Linked DNA regions of Homo sapiens: region 2 is linked to region 1. A link means that fine-mapping ties the variant in region 1 to the expression of a gene that starts in the linked region. Tissue or cell type: whole blood. Region 1 holds a variant in brackets; the other region holds the start of a gene. All regions are shown on one strand. Distances are from middle to middle.

Region 1 (8,351 bases):
TATGTATCTGCCCTACTCTACCCTGTTTTGTGCTTCAAAATGCTCACCACTATGGACTGTATCATTACGGTACTCTTACTGTTTGGTTTATGATAGAGAGGCACTAACAAATTGGAGGACAGGGAGAAGAAGGTCAGGGTATTTATTCTGAAGGCAGAAGTGGGTATATTCCTCTATTGAAGGCCACAGTTCCTGTTAGGCAGGCAGGCTTCTCTTATAGCTGCAGACCTCACTGAGTTCCAGTAACTACACTCAACCTTTGCCCCTGAAGTTTGGGGGGGACAGTGACTTCCAGATGTCACTAGTTCAAAATGCCCATCATCCCTTCTTGGTTTCTCTTAACCCTGCATACACCTTTGTAGACAGTCCTTTTTCTCTTTAGTCACCCCAGCTGAGTGTGCCATCCATTTTCTGCTAGGATCCTGGCTGATTCAGCAGGGAGAAAAAGAAACTAATTAAAAATTTAATTGATATCATCAGAGAATAAAATACTCATAATATAAGAACTGGCTGCTCAGAGAAAGTAACAATCTGAGAATACAAAAGAGTTATTGAAAGTTAAAAACATGGCTGCTAAATAAACATGTCAATAGAAGAACTGAATAATAGAACTGGGCTGAAGGGCAAATTTGTAATTTGGAAGATAAGTTCAGGGAACTCTCCAAGATATAAAGTAAAAAGACAAAAAAGAAACGGTATATGAAAAAAGGTTAAGATGAAGGTCTAACACTTAACTATTGGTCAAAAAAGGACAGACATAAGAGATATAATAGAGGAGAAGTAACAAAAGAGAGGATAGAAGAGTAATTTGAGATTCAATCTTTATATTGAAAAGACCCAAGCATAGTGGGGAGAAACATATTCTGACATACACCAGTGAAATTTCCTGGGCTTTTTTTTTTTTTTTTGAGGCAGAGCTTCACTCTTATTGCCCAGGCTGAAGTGCAGTGGTACGATCCTGGCTCACTGCAACCTCCGTCTCCTGGGTTCAAGCAATTCTCCTGCCTCTGCCTCCCAAGTAGCTGGGATTACAGGCACCTACCACCATGCCTAGCTAATTTTTTGTATTTTTAGTAGAGATGGGGTTTCATCATGTTGGCCAGGCTGGTCTGGAACTCCTGACCTCAGGTGATCCACCTGCCTCGGCCTCCCAAAGTGCTGGGATTACAGGTGTGAGCCACCGCGCCCAGCCGAAATTTCAAACTCTAAAGATAAATGAAAGCATCTTAAGTTCCCAGAATGTCCTTCTTCTTAGGAAAAACATGATAAAGTATTTTGGGGTGAAGTGTTTGTAACTTTCAAGAGGTTGAGCAAAAGGAGAGAAAAAAACAGAGAAGGCCATCGTGGCAAAATGTTAACAATACGTGACTCTAGGTGAAGGGTATATGGCATTTTCCATACTATTTTTTGAACTATTTGATAGGTTTAAAAAAAAAGTTGCGGAAAAAAGAAAAACAAGCCTCCTAGAGAGGGGTAAAATAAAACAAACAAACAAAAAAAAACACCAAGTTCCATGCTAAAAGAATAAGAATGAGACTGGCATAAGACTTCTCATTATAAACACCAGATGCTAGAAAATAATGGAATAATGCCTTCACAGTTATGAGAGAAAATGATTTTAACCTAATATTCAAATCAACTGTAACAAAATCTGAGGTAAAAGTAAAAACATCTTCAAATATTCATGGGCCAGAAAACTTAATTCCCACAAACTTTAATTTTTTTTTTTTAAGACTGGGTCTTGCTCTGCCACCCAGACTGGAGGGCAGTGATACAATCATAGCTCACTGTTACCTGGGACTCCTGGGTTCAAGTGATCCTCCCACCTCAGCATCCCAAGTAGCCAGGACCACAGCCGTGTACCACGACACATAGCTAATTTTTACTTTTTATTTTTTTGTTGAGATGGTGGGAGGGGGGGTCTCACTATGTTTCCCAGGCTGGTCTCAAACTCCTGGCCTCAAGAAATCCTCCTGCCTCAGCCTTCTAAAGTGCTGGGATTATAGTTGTGAGCCACTGCACCCAGCCTCCACAAACTCTTAAGAAAATTAATACTGAGCTTATGAAACTTAAAAAACATAGCAATGAATTACTTAAAAAATGTGATGAAACCACATCTTATTATCACGCTAATCCAAGCATTACATCACCTACTGCTGAAACAATGCAACAGCCCTTTAACTGGTCTTCATGCCTCCTTTGTTGTACCTATCCATGCCCCACACAAGAACCATCATTTTATTTTAATGTTCCATTTTATTTTTTTAAATGTAGGTAACAGATTCACATTGAACAAAATACTTTCACGTGATTTGAATGTAGGAAGTGCAAAAGAGCATTAAGTCTCTGAGACCCAGAGAGTGGGGCCCCTACACTTTAGAGGGCCTGCTGTGGACCTCCTCCAGCTGCACCCCTCTGAGAGATGAAGTCCACAGGACTAGGGCATGTGCCCACCCAGATTATGCTTCAGGTACTTGGAACCGTAGGAATCTCTACTCAAATGGGCTGAGCCAGCTCTCTGGGCCTACACATGGGTTGTCCTCCCTATGGCTGAACACAAGGCCCATGTACGCAACCTTAGGCTCAGAAAGTGGACAGGCAGCAGCTGTATGTGGGGTGTGCAGCAGCTGATGTGAGGGCAGGGTGTCTATCCTTCATAGTGTAGGGGTGGGTGGGATTGGGGTGGGAGAACAGCATAGACAGGCCACCGCCAGGGCCCACCAGTTGAAATGGGCTTATGAAAACGTATACAGTGAAAAGCCTTGGACTCATTCCTGTCCCCAGCCAATGGCTACTTTTTCCAAAGACAACTACTGTTTCTAATACAAGTTAATCACTTTAAATCAAAAATCTGAAAATGTAATCTCCAACCTAAAGGATTTTAGTGGTTCTCTATTACTGTTAAGATAAAATCCAAAATTCTTAAAGTGGTCAACATAGCATTTTTCAAACTATAACATTCATTAGAACCATTTGGGGATTCAAGTCTGATCCAGTAGAACTGGGGTGAGGCTTGAGATTCTGCATTTCCAATATCTTCCCTAAGTGATACTGATGCTGCTGACCCATAGGCTACACCTTGAGTAGTAAGAGCGTATAAGAAATTAATATTCCTTTTGAAGCTATGACTTCAGCTACCCAGGTAGGGAAGGACGTTTTCCTCCTGGTTTACCCATCTCATTTAAAGAGAAAAAGCTACAGTCAGTCCACACAGATGGGAGAGAGGGTGGGTAGAAACTGCCAAGTAATAATAATAGCTAACATTATTCATTCATTCAACAAACATTTGTTGGACAATGTATGTGATAGCATTGGTCTAGAGGGTCCAGCAATGAACAAGAAAAAGTCTCAGTCTTCCTGGAGCTTATAACCTACTAGGGCAGACAGAATAAATATATAAGTAAATAACGAGTTCAGGTCGTGTTTGGGGCAAAGAAGAAAAATAAATCAAGATAAGGATCTAGAGGGTAAGAAGAGGTGCTATTTTAGATAACTAAGGCATATACAAAGATAGTTTTTGTTTCTTTTTTTTTTTTTTTACCATACTAAGTTCTAAGACAGGCACAATGCTAAGTACCTTAAAGAGATGAAGGTCCTTTTATCTTCATTTTGCTGATGATAAACTGAAGCTCAGAGATGGTAAGTAACTTCCTCGAGGTTAGACAGGCAGAATCGGGATATGGACCCCGGCAGTCTAGGATCAATTTCTGTGTTAATATGTATTTCCTGTTCATGTTACATGAGGGCTGCAACTCTGCTGTGCTCAGCTGAGCTCCCTGTGTTTTCATATTCTGGAAGCCAGACTTAAACTTTTAACCTGTAAACTGCCAGGTGAGGGCCTGCCAGTTTAAGACCAGCATCATAAGAAACTCAAGTACAAATATTCACCAGACACACTGCAAGAATGTGTCTTGTACTCACTCAGCAGACTCAGAGGCACGAGCTAACATTTAGTCAACAAAAATTTCCCTTTGTTGGTTTAAAACTCCCCAGTTTCA[A/G]TCACTTCAATTTTTCTCTAAAGTTTAAGGAAAATAAGTTTAACATGCAGCAGGTCACTCTCGTTTTAGCAATGGTTCTTAATCTTTTAAGATCACAATCTCTTTGAAAATCTGATAAAACACGGGCTCTCTCCCAAGAAAAATGCAAGTGAGTACACAGTTTTGCATGCAGCTTAAGGGGTTCAGACACCTAAAATAGCAATAATCCTCAATTTGAGAATGCTTACATTGTAGCATCTTCCAAAATAAATCTCTGCTCTGAAAACTTTCTTCTCCCTGGTGAAGGGAGTGATCCTCTTTTACTAATTACTTAATTTAATTAAAACACAGTTAACTCTTAATTATTAGCATTTCAAAAATACAGCTTTATCCTCTAACACAGTTCTGCAGCAAAAAAGAAAAAGGACCTAGCTAGCTGTTAAGAATTAATTATTTCAGCTTCCTGAAAGGCAAGTTTCAATGATAGGTTATCTATGTGTGAATTAGCCATAAATATTTTTATTGTATAGTGGGTGATTTCCCTTCTATAGTCAGTAGTTTACAACAAGTATGTTGTTGAATATAACTCCAGTCCTTGAGAAACACAAGCATAATTTCCCTAAGTCACATATAATTTCCCCAAGTCGCATGTTTTTAGAGAAAGGTAAATTTGTTCCTTCTGCCCTCTAAAAACCATGAAATGCATCTCTAGACTAAGAAATGATTTAGGCTTCTGTATCATTTTTCAGCTTCATAGTATATTGTTGATTTTACTTTTTTTAATAAACAAAACACAGTACTACTAAAATGTAAAATGACACAATGGAGAGAGCAGGCAAGTAAAACAGTAACTTTTGATTCTTGATGCCTCATGTTTAATTATACAATGACTGAACCATAATGTGGTAGAGCTCTTAATACAACATACCCAAATTATTGCATGGCTAATTCAAGGAGTTTAAAGTAAACAGGAATATAAAGATGCTTAAATAAATACTTAAGGCCAGCTGTGTTTGTGACTTGAAAGAGAGCTAAGGCAACACGATAGTTGACTACGGAATCACCAAAAAATACAGACATTTTATCTAGTCAATTTTTTTTTTAATAAAATGGCAAAGATATTTGAATTAAGCAGATTTAGAAAAAATTATAAATAGGTAAATTTTTATTATTTGCATTCAATAGAATAAAAAATAAAGTGTTTTTTTGTTTGTTTTTTTAGTTTCAAGAGGCAGTATAGTATTGAAATTAACAAAATAAACTCTGGAGACCAAATGTCTGAGTTTGAATCCTTGCTCTGCCATCTGCACTAGCTAGGTGAACAGGGGCAAATTAGATAACCTCTTTGTGTCTCAGCCTCCTATTAAATGGGTGAATGCATGTACAGAGTTTAAAGTGGCACCTGCAAAAAAAAATCCAAGCATTTGAATGTAAGCTCTACGAGGGTAGTGATTTTTATCTATTTTTCCCTTTAGTGCATATGAGTACCTAGAACAGTACTAAAGATGGTAGGTGCTCAAAAAATATTTGTGAAATGAATGACTGTTATCGTTGTTATTATATGGTTATTTTCTCAATAGATGGAAACACTAAATCAGTTAAGCTCGGCTATTTAAACTTGGAAACTTTGGTCTCTTTTCCCCAACCCCCCTTTAAAAACATAAGTGTTGTGACATTGCAAACCCGTCTTCTCCTAAGACCCACAGCACCAAAATATGGGCAACAAACTAGATTTTGGTTGAGCAAGAGTGCCATCTAGCGCTCATAAAAGCTAAAAGCTGAGAATTAGGAGTAAATTTTTATTCAGTGTAAACACAAAGGGGAAAAAACCCACAAATGCAAAACTCATTAGGAAAAAATATTCTTCATTAACAGCCAAGGTGTTTGAAAGAAAGTTATTTCTAAATAAAAATCTCAGCTTTAAAAGTTGGTATATACCATATTAGAAGAGACATTTCAGAGAGTACAGTTTACTGAAGTTCTACTTACCTTAAAAGCCACTCTTCTATGAATAGAAAGTGGTGTTTTGACTTATTTTCTTTTTAATGACATGTGTTTGGTCTCATTATAATAGATTAACTCATTATAGAAATCTTGGAAAAATTAAGAAAAGCATAAACCACTGCCAAGAGAGATAACCGCTATTAGTATTGGGACATACAGTCACGTGTCACATAATAACATTTTGGTCAACAATGGACCATATATACTATGGTCATCCCATAAAATTATCATGCAACATTTTTACTGTGCCTTTTCTATGTTTAGATAACACAAATACCATTGTGTTACAATTGCCTATTCATTACAGTAATGTGCTATCGAGGTTTGTAGCCTAAGAGCAATAGCCTAGATATGTAGTAGGCTATACCATCTATGTTTGTGTAAGTACATTCTATGATGTTTGCACAATTATGTAATTGCCTAACAATGCATTTCTCAGAATATATCTGTCATTAAGCAACACATAACTGTATATATGTGTGTATATATGTATATACCTTCTAGATTTAAAATATACATTAAAAATAGTTTAATTTTAATAAAACATTTGGCCAAGATGCTAAAAATGAAATGAGAAAATTATAAATATTGATAATTTGTTTCTCTACTAAAATCAAGAGCTTTCTCTGTCATTGAAAAGCTCTCATCTCAACATTGTATTCAGTGGGTTAAATTTTTAAAATAAATTGCTATAAATTATGTAATCATTTGTGGGTAGCTCTACAATAGCCAAAATACATAAGAATTATGGTTTATAAAGTGAAAAAAGACAAAATTATTTCATCTGTTCCTTATAAATAACACAAAATTGATAGTAAAGTACACCAACTTGACTTTGGGTGATCTGAATAAAATTTGGGTTTGCTTAATATTTAATCTCACTCCTTATTCATTTGACAATGCTCATTAAAGTTTTGGGATTTGCTTTTAATTCTCTTTCCCCTCAAATCATAGACACAGAAGAGATTTGACTCACAGCTCACTAGAGAAGTATCAAATGATGAAAAGAAAGCTGACTGCCATTTCCTACCTTTTGGACAAATGCTGTTTTGCTTTTAGTACCAAGAATGGGAAGTAAAACATTTCCTAAAGTTGCATAGGAATAATGGTTGACAAGAGTCATGGAGGAAAGGAAGAACGAGGAAGATGAAGAAGCTGCTAGAGCCAGGCAGGCCTCTCCCACTGAGGCATGGTGAGCCCCACCTAGTGAGGGGGCAGGCACTGGGGTAGAGCATCTATTGTTCAGGCTGGTGTGAGGCTCCTTTATCTGGAGAATGGTTGCAAAGGTAGGAAGAAGTCGAGACTGGACTCATACTATCACTAGCTGAAGCACACTCTATTCTGACATTAATCAGGTTTCTAAGCATATACCCTAAATCACAGCTCTCTTCATAGTATGCAGGAAGGACTCTTTTCCTAACTCCTAGCTTCAGGAGATAGGTTGTTAGGGTAATGGTTCCCAATGGCTTTTAAAATGGTTCCTAATGATCCTCCTGGTATTCACTCTTTTCTGTAATCTGTTCCTTTTGAGTATGGACTAAACCTAGTTGGCTGGTTTCTAATGAAGTGATTAAGGTAAAAGTTATGGGATGTTTTTTCCAAGATTAGGCTATAAAAGACTGTGATTTCTGTCTTGCTGGCACTCTTTCTCAGGCTAATACTCTCTCCAGCTCCTCACGTTTCCTTTGAAGAAGCAAATGGAAAGGCCCATGTGGCAAAGAACTGAGGGTGGCCTCCAGCTAACATAACTAAGAACTTGAGGCCCTCAATCCATTAGCCTGCAAGGAACTGAATCTTACATCATCTGAATGAACTTGGATGAAAACTCTTCCCAATTTGAGCCTTCAGATGAGACCATGGCCCTGGCAGATACTGTAATTGCAGCTTTATAGGAGACCCTGAAACAGGGATCCCAGCTAAGGTGTAAGCAGATTCCTAATTCACAGAAATTGTGAAATAATAGTTGTGTGTTGTTTTAAACTACCAAATTTGTAATGAGGCTATAAAAAACTAATTCAGTTGTTAAAAAAATAAAAGCTCCTCAACACCCCCTCCCCGACCCCAGAGGGAATGACTCTGAGGGTCTTTTTCCTCGGCTTGTGGAAGCCTCTGCAGTAACCACCTAAGCCTGGACCCTGCTCCTCCCTTTGGCATGACTGACACTTTCACAAATTAGGTCCTCTCCAGTTCACTGCATAGTCTCTCTCTGTCATCCAAGGGCTTCTGCACTTTCCCCAACATCTGAAATAAATAATATGATGTTTGAGCAAACTTCCTAGTTCCATGCTTCAGTGACCAGACCAGATTGGAATCTAAGTGCATGTGTGGTTTCTAAGATAAATCATCCATCTTTATTATGTATCACTAATT
Region 2 (8,000 bases), 380 kb after region 1:
AGAGCAAAGAGGGAAGCTTGGAGGGGGGTGGCATTTGGGAGACCTGCACCACCTGGTCGCATGGCAGTGCAAAACCAAAGTAAACAGAGGCACCTTCTTGAAGTACCACTTAAGCAAAACTCCCATACACAGGTTCATCTCTGAGAGATTCCAGGACTTTTCATGCTGGGTGATCAACTAGGGCTGTGCTTGCTTAATCCCTGAGGGGACAGGTTCCTTCTCCTTTGCTGCTGAGACCAAAAAAACAGAAAAGTGTGGAGTTCCTTGCAGTGAGGACAAGTTTGGAAGGGAGAGGCAGGAGCCAGGCCACAGTCAGGCAGGGGGAGGGGAAATTCAGCAAGAGGGTCCCTGACCTGTGGCTTTGAGAAGGCTCTGGAAGAAGCTCTGGTTGTAGATCCTGGCTACACCACTGATCTCCGGCACCTGTGTCTCCTCCACGGTGCGTCCATTCACAAAGTTGGCTGTGATGCCAATGGCCAGTTTGCCTCGCATTTCTCGAACTTTGAAGCCTAGAGGTGGCGGTAGGTGAACAATGGCAGGAGGAGGGGGTTATAACAATCTAGAAAGGCCCAGGATGTGCCAGAGATGCTGGCTTCTTTGAGGGAAGTGATCACTCACCTTCAGGGACGAATTTACCTCCTGCAGCCGAGATAAGGACGTCAAATTCATAGTTGGCCAGCTGGGCAGGGGGGTTGGGTTGGAGCTGGGCACGCCAGCCACTCCCTAGGGCAGGGGGTATGAGAGGCACAAAGGTGTAGAAGTCGTAAGAGCCCCTATACTCTCAGGACAAACCAGTGAAATCATCAAAACGTGTAAAGGACTCTCTGGTTTAGAAAGCAATGATATATTATCTATCAGATTACACCTTCACAGCAGCTATGGAAGGCAGGTGAGGAAGGAAGTGTTATTCTTGTTTTGCAAATGCTCAATCTGAGGCTCAGAGTGGCTTGCCCAAGGCCACACTATTAGAAAAGGAGACTCCTGGCTGGCATGGTGGGTCACGCCTGTAATCCCAGCACTTTGGGAGACCGAGGTGGGTGGATCACTTGAGGTCAGTAGTTCGAGACCAGCCTGGCCAACACAGTGAAACCCCGTCTCTACTTAAAAAAATACAAAAATTAGCTGGGCATGGTGGCACATGCCTGTAATCCCAGCTCCTCAGGAGGCTGAGGCAGGAGAATCACTTGAAACTGGGTGGCAGAGGTTGCAGTGAGCCGAGATCATGCCACTGCACTCCAGCCTGGGTGACAGAACGAGACTCTGTCTCAAAACAAAAACAGAAAAGGACACTCCTGGCCCATCCTTTTTCAGACACTGGCCAAGTTCTTGATGGGGGAGGGGGAGATTCCAGGGAGCATAGAAATACTTACCCTTCCTAGGAGGGGGCTGGAGGCCAGTGAAAGTGACACCCCAGTGAATTTCCACCCCCAGCAGCAATGCTACCTTCAGCAGAAGCAGCTGGAGCTGCCTGATGCCTGGAAGGGAGAGGACATTAGGAACAGGGACCCTAGGGCAGCACAAGCTCCCCATGTACCAGTGTGTGCCTGGTCAGGGTCAGACTGGAAAAGGCCTTAGCAATCACTCAGCCCAAAAGCCCACTTATAGATGGGGGACCTGAATCTTCAAGGTCACCTGGCTGATACGGATCTTGTCCACTTCGACATTTGGCTGTCCCAGCATTTCCCCACTGGCCTGCCTCTAGGCCCAAGCTCACCCGCCCCTCCAGGCCACCACGTGGTGCTCACTGATGTGGTCCAGGGTGCCGGTGCAGAAGCGCCCGTAGAACTTCTTAGCACCGAGTGCCCGCAGGTCGTGGATGGTGAAGGGCCAGAGGTGGAGCACGTTGTGGCGAGAGAACTTGGTGCGCTTTTCCACCAGCACCACTCGGGCCCCCAGCAGCGCCAGCTCCACAGCGACCCGCAGCCCGCAAGGTCCAGCACCCACCACCAGGCACTGTGAACACACAGGGCAGTGAGGGCATGGCATCCTGTCCGTCCTCTGACTCCCCGCATGCTCCACACCCCATCCCAGGCACCGTGTATCCACCTTGGTGCTGGTGCAGGCCCGGCCCTGCTGGTAGACAGGCTGGCCTGCTCGCTTGTCCAGCTTGGTCCACAGTGACTTGGCGCTCCAGTAGTTGAGCTGGTCCTTGATCTTGTGGTACTGGGGCAGCCCCCCACCGGGTTCCAGCCCCAGGGCCCCACACAGCTCCTGGAAGCTGCTCAGCACGTCCTGGCACAGCTGGGCCTGCAGGAAGCTCTCAAAGTGGGCATGCGCTGGGTTGGTGGAGGTAGGTGAAGCCATGGAGGCCTCCTGGGGAGGGCAGCAGCTGGGCAGAGATGAGTGGCTGGAGAGGTGGAAAAAGAAGGGGAAGAGGCTGGAGAACAGAAGAAATAAAAAGGAAGGGGAGGCGAAGAGAGCAGGCTGGTGTCCCCAGGGAGCTCGGGATTCACCAGTGATTGGCTCTGCTCCTCCCAGCCCATTCCCCTGCCAGCATCTGCTCCAGAGACAGCTGCTATCCAGTCCACTCCAAGTGAAATTTGCCAAATTTGGAAGTGAAAAACATTAGTCTTGGGCACAGAGGGCACATGGGACACCAGGGGAGCCTCCAGTTCAGCCTCCCTGTCCAGGGATCTCCAAGCCCTGGGGTAGGAATTCTTAGCCTGCCTTCCTTAGGCCTTGGAATCAGGGTGTGCGGGGATTTCTTAGATGTGGAGAGGACAGAGCTGCCTTTGCATGCAACACAGGGACAGATCTGATACCCACAACCCCAGCTGCTGAGCATACATCCTGCCCCATCTCCCTCCAAGCGTCCCTGTGCCGGCGCCCCTTGATGGCCTCAGTGCCACGCTGTGTCTGAGAAGTGTCTCATGGCAAGGGCAAAGTTTTCCTCAGCACTCGTGCTTGCCTCCTGACAGAGAAACAGCCTCTGTCCGCGTAGGTTCCACTTCCCTCCACCAAACTGCCTCAACAAACGGCGGGAGGATGTTGCGACTGACTGGGGAACGGAGGCCTGGGTCTATTTCTGACGCACTGTGGTCAAAACACTTCCTCTGTGAATGTGCCCTACTCCAGGGGGCCGTGGGTAGGGCTGGGGGTCGACCGCAGCCGGGTGCGCCCCTCCCAGGTTCCCCCCTCCCTGATCGACCCCTACCCCGCCCCGCCCCCTGTGCGCCCGGGCGCGCTCTCCCAGGAATCTCCGGAGACAAAGCCTCGCTTTGTCGCCCCCTCCCACGCCACCTGAAGGGTGCCCGAGGGGGTTTCTCACGCGGGGCCCAGAAGGTATCAGAGGGTATGGAGGAGGCGGGTGTCCACGGCAGCGTTAGGGAGGGTGAATGGCAGCAGTGGGGGCAGGTCCCTGAGGCTCAGGCCCCTCCACCATCCAGCTGCCCCTCCGTTCCCAGCCCGCCGCGCCGAGACAGGAGATGAAAGCCTCCCGCTGCGGGTGGCCCGGACGAGGGCAGACGGAATCTCATGACGGAAGGGCAAAGATCTTTCTTGGGGGTGGAGGGTGGAAGGAGGAAGACCTCGGCGAAAGGGGAGAAAGGAGCGACCCAGCCTGGAAACGCCAGGACAAAGGCTGTGAGAGGGGTGGAGCGGTCTGAAAGGATGGAGAGGGAGCTGGACCGCGGGCGGCAGCGGTGGGGGTCCCCGACACTGGACGGCAAAGTCCGGACGCGGCGTGAGCAGGGCTGGGCTGAGGGAAGACCTGCCTGACCTGCCAGGCGTGGTTCCCGAGCGACCGCAGCTGCGTTTCCCCGGAAGCGCACCCCACCTCACCCCACCCGGCCGCGGGGCTCGCAGCCGGCTCCGCTGGACGACTTACCGGCGGCTCCGAAGCCGGGAGGGGCCGCTTCCTGTTGGGCTGGCAACCAGGTCTGAGCGGGTGGGAGGGCGGGGGCGGGGGCGGGGGCGGAAACGCCGAGATCGGGCGGGGATGCTGGGATGCGGGGCGGCCCGGGGCGTGCGCCTGGAGTCGCGCGGAGTGTGGGCTTCCGCGAGGGGCGCGGGGCGCCGCCCGGGCTTTATTCGCGACTCATTAGCATCTCATTACTTCTGGATCCCTCTACCGCCTCCAGCGGGGACAGTCTTGGGCCCGCCCATGCCTGCAGGGTGGCGCCCGAGGGCGTGGCGCTGCGGACACCCCGTTCCGCTCTGGGGCCTCTGGGTGGGTCTGGCCTGTTGGGGGCTGAGGAGCTCGAGGGTCAGGGCGCCCAGTGCTGGACCGCGCACCCTCGGCCTGGGCTCCTTGCCGGTGCTTGCGCGTGCAAGGCTAGCTCTTTCCCCGCCGCAAGGCGAGGACCACCCGCCCCCGCCGCGGTCCCAGGTCCGCTGGCAGCCTCCCAGCGCCGGGCCGAGAGGGCGCTCAGGCTCCTCAAGAGGTTTGGAAAAGCCGGCGGGTCCGAGGGTGGCGCCGGAACGTCTGCGCTCTCCTCCGGTCTCCCACCTGGAGATCCACGGCCCGGGCGCCCCAGGATGGATCCAAGCGCAGAGTGCGCCTCCTGTGACAGAGGTCGACCCCTAAGCCCGGGCCGAGGGCAAAGGGCGCGGATTAAAGTCCTGGAAACTCAGCAATCTGCAGCTTCCAAATGGATATGAGAAGTGAGAGGGAAGGGGATGGCGGGGCGGGTTAGACCACCACTAAGAGATGGGGAATGGGAGGGGTGTGTGGAAGAGAGACCAAGTCTTCAAAGAATGCCTTAGAGTGAGGACCCACGGGACTGTCTGCTGAAAAGGGCTGGAGAGGCCTTTGGGATCAGCTTCGTCGTATTCCCGATAAGGAACAGCGCCTAAAGTGAAGGGACGCGTCCAGTCTTTTAGCTAGTTAATATTAAAAAACATCGTCTCATTTATTGACCGTCATCCTATGAGTATTACCTCAACATCAGTGCTTGCAACAGTCCCATTTTACCAAAAAGGAAACTGAGTCACAGATGTTCTGTGATCTGCACACAGCAAGTGGCAGAGCTGTTTGGGGGCCCAGGTCTGTCGGCTCCACCACCCCAGGGTTGACCCAAAATGACGCATGAAAGGCTGGCATTATAAGATGCTGTTTCTTGTTTAGACGAAGTGATACTGTTACACTGGAAGCACTAATAAAACCCAGGTATAAATAAGAGGGTTGCTGTCCTTGAGATCCAGAGACCATAAAGAGCTGGGAGGGAATAGGGCCTCTCCCTTTATTCTCATTTTGCATTTCATCTGGAAAATATCTGAGACCCAGTAAGACCTGAACACTCACTGTTCCCAGCTCGAGCTGAGAAGCAGGCAGTGGGACGAAAGCAAGGGGAAATGCCTGTTCTCTGCCAGGAGAGGCGAGGGAATTCAGCCAGGTCACGCTCAGAAAACTAGGGCAGCCTCTCAGTTGGGCCCATCCTAGCTTTTGAGTGTGACACGTCATTTGGCTTGAAATGAATTTGCCGAATATCAGACACACCCATATTTAAATACATGGTGTAAAAACGTTCTAAAGTCCACTACAGCTGGGTTACCCTGGGCTCCACCACCCCAGGGTTGATTCAAAATGATGCGTGAAAGGCTGGCATTATACGAAGCTATGTCTTGTTTAGAGGAAGTGAACTGTCACGCTGGAAACACTAATAAAACCGAGGAATAAAGAGGAGGGTTGCTGTCCTTGAGATCCAGAGACCATAAGAGATCCAGAGACCATAAGAGATCCCGAGACAGTCCCTGGCTTCTAGAATAATCTCATTTCCCTTTCACTAGCAGATGGTACACAACTAGCCGCTCCACTTACTACAACTACAGCGGCTACAACTAGCCGCTCCACTTTGCAAAGGCTTAGTGGGGTCTGGCTTGACTCAATGCCTTTTGCCAAGCAGGGTCATGTGGCTCTATGAATGACACATCATAAAATTTGTCTTTAAAGAAGATCAGAGAACAATAATGAGTTCATCAGTGCTAAAAACTGCTGACTTGAAGTTTCAACTTATGCTAATTAAATACTTAACATGGGGGCATAAAGCAGCAGGGAATACATTGTTCTGGAATCCAGAAGGTCTGGTTGGATTCCAGCTTTGCTTCACGCTAGCCTAGTGTGACCTTGGATGTCACCAACCACACTTCGTCTGCCCATCTCTAAATGGAGGCAGTTTAATTACTCAGCCTTCTCAGCCCATTTCTACTCCAAAATCCTATCATTCAATGCTGTCCTAAGAAATGAACAGACTAGAAGACCCAAACCAAGTTCTACTTAGAATTTCTTCCAAGAAAAAAAAAAAAAACTCTATTAAAGCTATTTATTAACCACAAGAATTTCTCTCCTTAATTAGAATCTTGAGTCATGATTCAAATTATGTGTATGTAGAACTAAAAATACTGGCACAATCACATTGGCCAATTCATATTGGATCAAATAAGTGGGTGACACATGAAGTCAGTTTAAAGAGTCCCATTCTAAGGCTGGGCACAGTGGCTCATGCCTGTAATCCCAGCACTTTGGGAGGCTGAGGCGGGCAGATCACCTGAGGTCGGGAGTTCGAGACCAGCCTGAGCAACATGGAGAAACCCCAACTCTATGAAAAATACAAAATTAGCCAGGCATGGTGGCACATGCCTGTAATCCCAGCTACTCAGGAAGGCTGAGGCAGGAGAATCGCTTGAACTCGGGAGGTGGAGGTTGCGGTAAGCTGAGATCGTTCCATTGCACTCCAGCCTGGGCAACGAGGGTGAAACTCCGTCCAAAAAAAGAAAAAAAGGAGTCCCATTCTAATGTTTTTGCAAACGGTAAAACCTAGCAGTAGCCTAGGTTAAAACCTGAGCCATTACGACAGGATCCTCCTTCCTCTGCCCCATACCATGTTCTGTCACCTCCCAATTTCTTATCTCCTGGGCCCAGAAACTGGGTCCCTAGTACTGTAGGTGGCATGTTTAAGTCACCTGTAATATGGCTTTGTACCTGCAGGCCAGTATCTTCAAGCAACAAACCCATGGTCCTGGGCCGGGAAGCTGTGGCTGCAGTATAGCCAGAGACAGAGCCCATGATTTAAAAAGTGACATCTGCGCCAAAGGTGTAGAGAGTGCCATGAGAGGATGTGACAACATGGTTTGATTGAGGTTAGAGGACAGATGAGTACTCATGAATCAGAGTGGGGGCAGACAACTTTCAAGGCTGAGAAACCACCTGCCACAAAGCCTTCAGGCAGGAAAGAGCTGGGTATGTTTGGGGAACACCAAGGAACCACGTGACGAAATGAGAATGGGGAAGAGGGTCCCAAGAGGAAGTTGGAGATTTTATTCTAAAGGCCAATGGAAACTCTGTAGAAGGATTTTAAGCAGAGCAGAGACACGGTCATATTTATCTTAATAACTAATGCAAATCCATTCATTCAGCAAGGCACTCTGTTTGATGCTAAGCTAAGGGTACAATGGTGAGCCCAAACAGATCACCACTTCCAGTGGAGAAAGCCCAGCAGGAGGTGGTAGAAAGGATCAATCAGGTCTTTGTCAGGAGTACAGGCAAGTGACATGGTATAGTGAGGATGGGAGAAGTGGATGGAGTCAAAAGATATTTCAAGGTGAAACTGACATAACATGGCCATGAATTGGGTGTGGGGGTCAGGTGGGCCCCTTCAAGAATGACACCCAGCTTTGTCTCTTGGCTTGGAGTGGGTAAATCACAAACTTGGGGCCCCCATTCTTTCCTATTTTTCCTTCCCACCTTATTCCTCTGTATGCTGCTTTTTACTCAATACCTTCCCCAGAAGTCAAAGCACAATTATGATTTCATAGATTCTGAGATAACACAAGGACTCTACCTTGAGAGGCTGCAAAGATTAAACACATAAATAGGTTCAGGATCAGTTAAATACTTGCCCATATTTTTGTAATAAGACTGCCTTTGCCCTTCAAACACTAAGATTATAAGAAACATTTATCCAGAAGCCACTTAATTAACCAAACTAAAATTATCTTGACAGGTGGATTTTTAAAATGTAGTTTTGTTTTTAACTCTGATTTAGTCTAAGGAAGCTTCAGTT

Evidence for each region. PIP is the estimated chance that this variant, and not a neighbour inherited with it, causes the effect.
Region 2: MICAL1 starts here. The variant in region 1 is fine-mapped to the expression of MICAL1 in whole blood (TOPMed, PIP above 0.99).

What each region holds. Positions count from the first base shown.
Region 1 is chr6:109,067,830-109,076,180 of GRCh38, forward strand. The region is part of intron 1 of SESN1 (sestrin 1); the gene reads right to left. Among named protein-coding and RNA genes, the nearest start is that of SESN1, 23 kb to the right of the region's middle. The variant A/G (reference allele first, on the strand shown) is at 3,999.
Region 2 is chr6:109,451,893-109,459,892 of GRCh38, forward strand. It overlaps MICAL1 (microtubule associated monooxygenase, calponin and LIM domain containing 1), which reads right to left and starts at 3,880. Exons shown (of 25, transcript NM_022765.4): 1 at 3,827-3,880; 2 at 2,047-2,347; 3 at 1,746-1,953; 4 at 1,371-1,475; 5 at 619-723; 6 at 354-509. The coding sequence starts at 2,304. RefSeq lists enhancers at 2,472-2,521, 2,752-2,801, 2,884-3,392, 7,252-7,301 and silencers at 2,952-3,291, 3,652-4,501.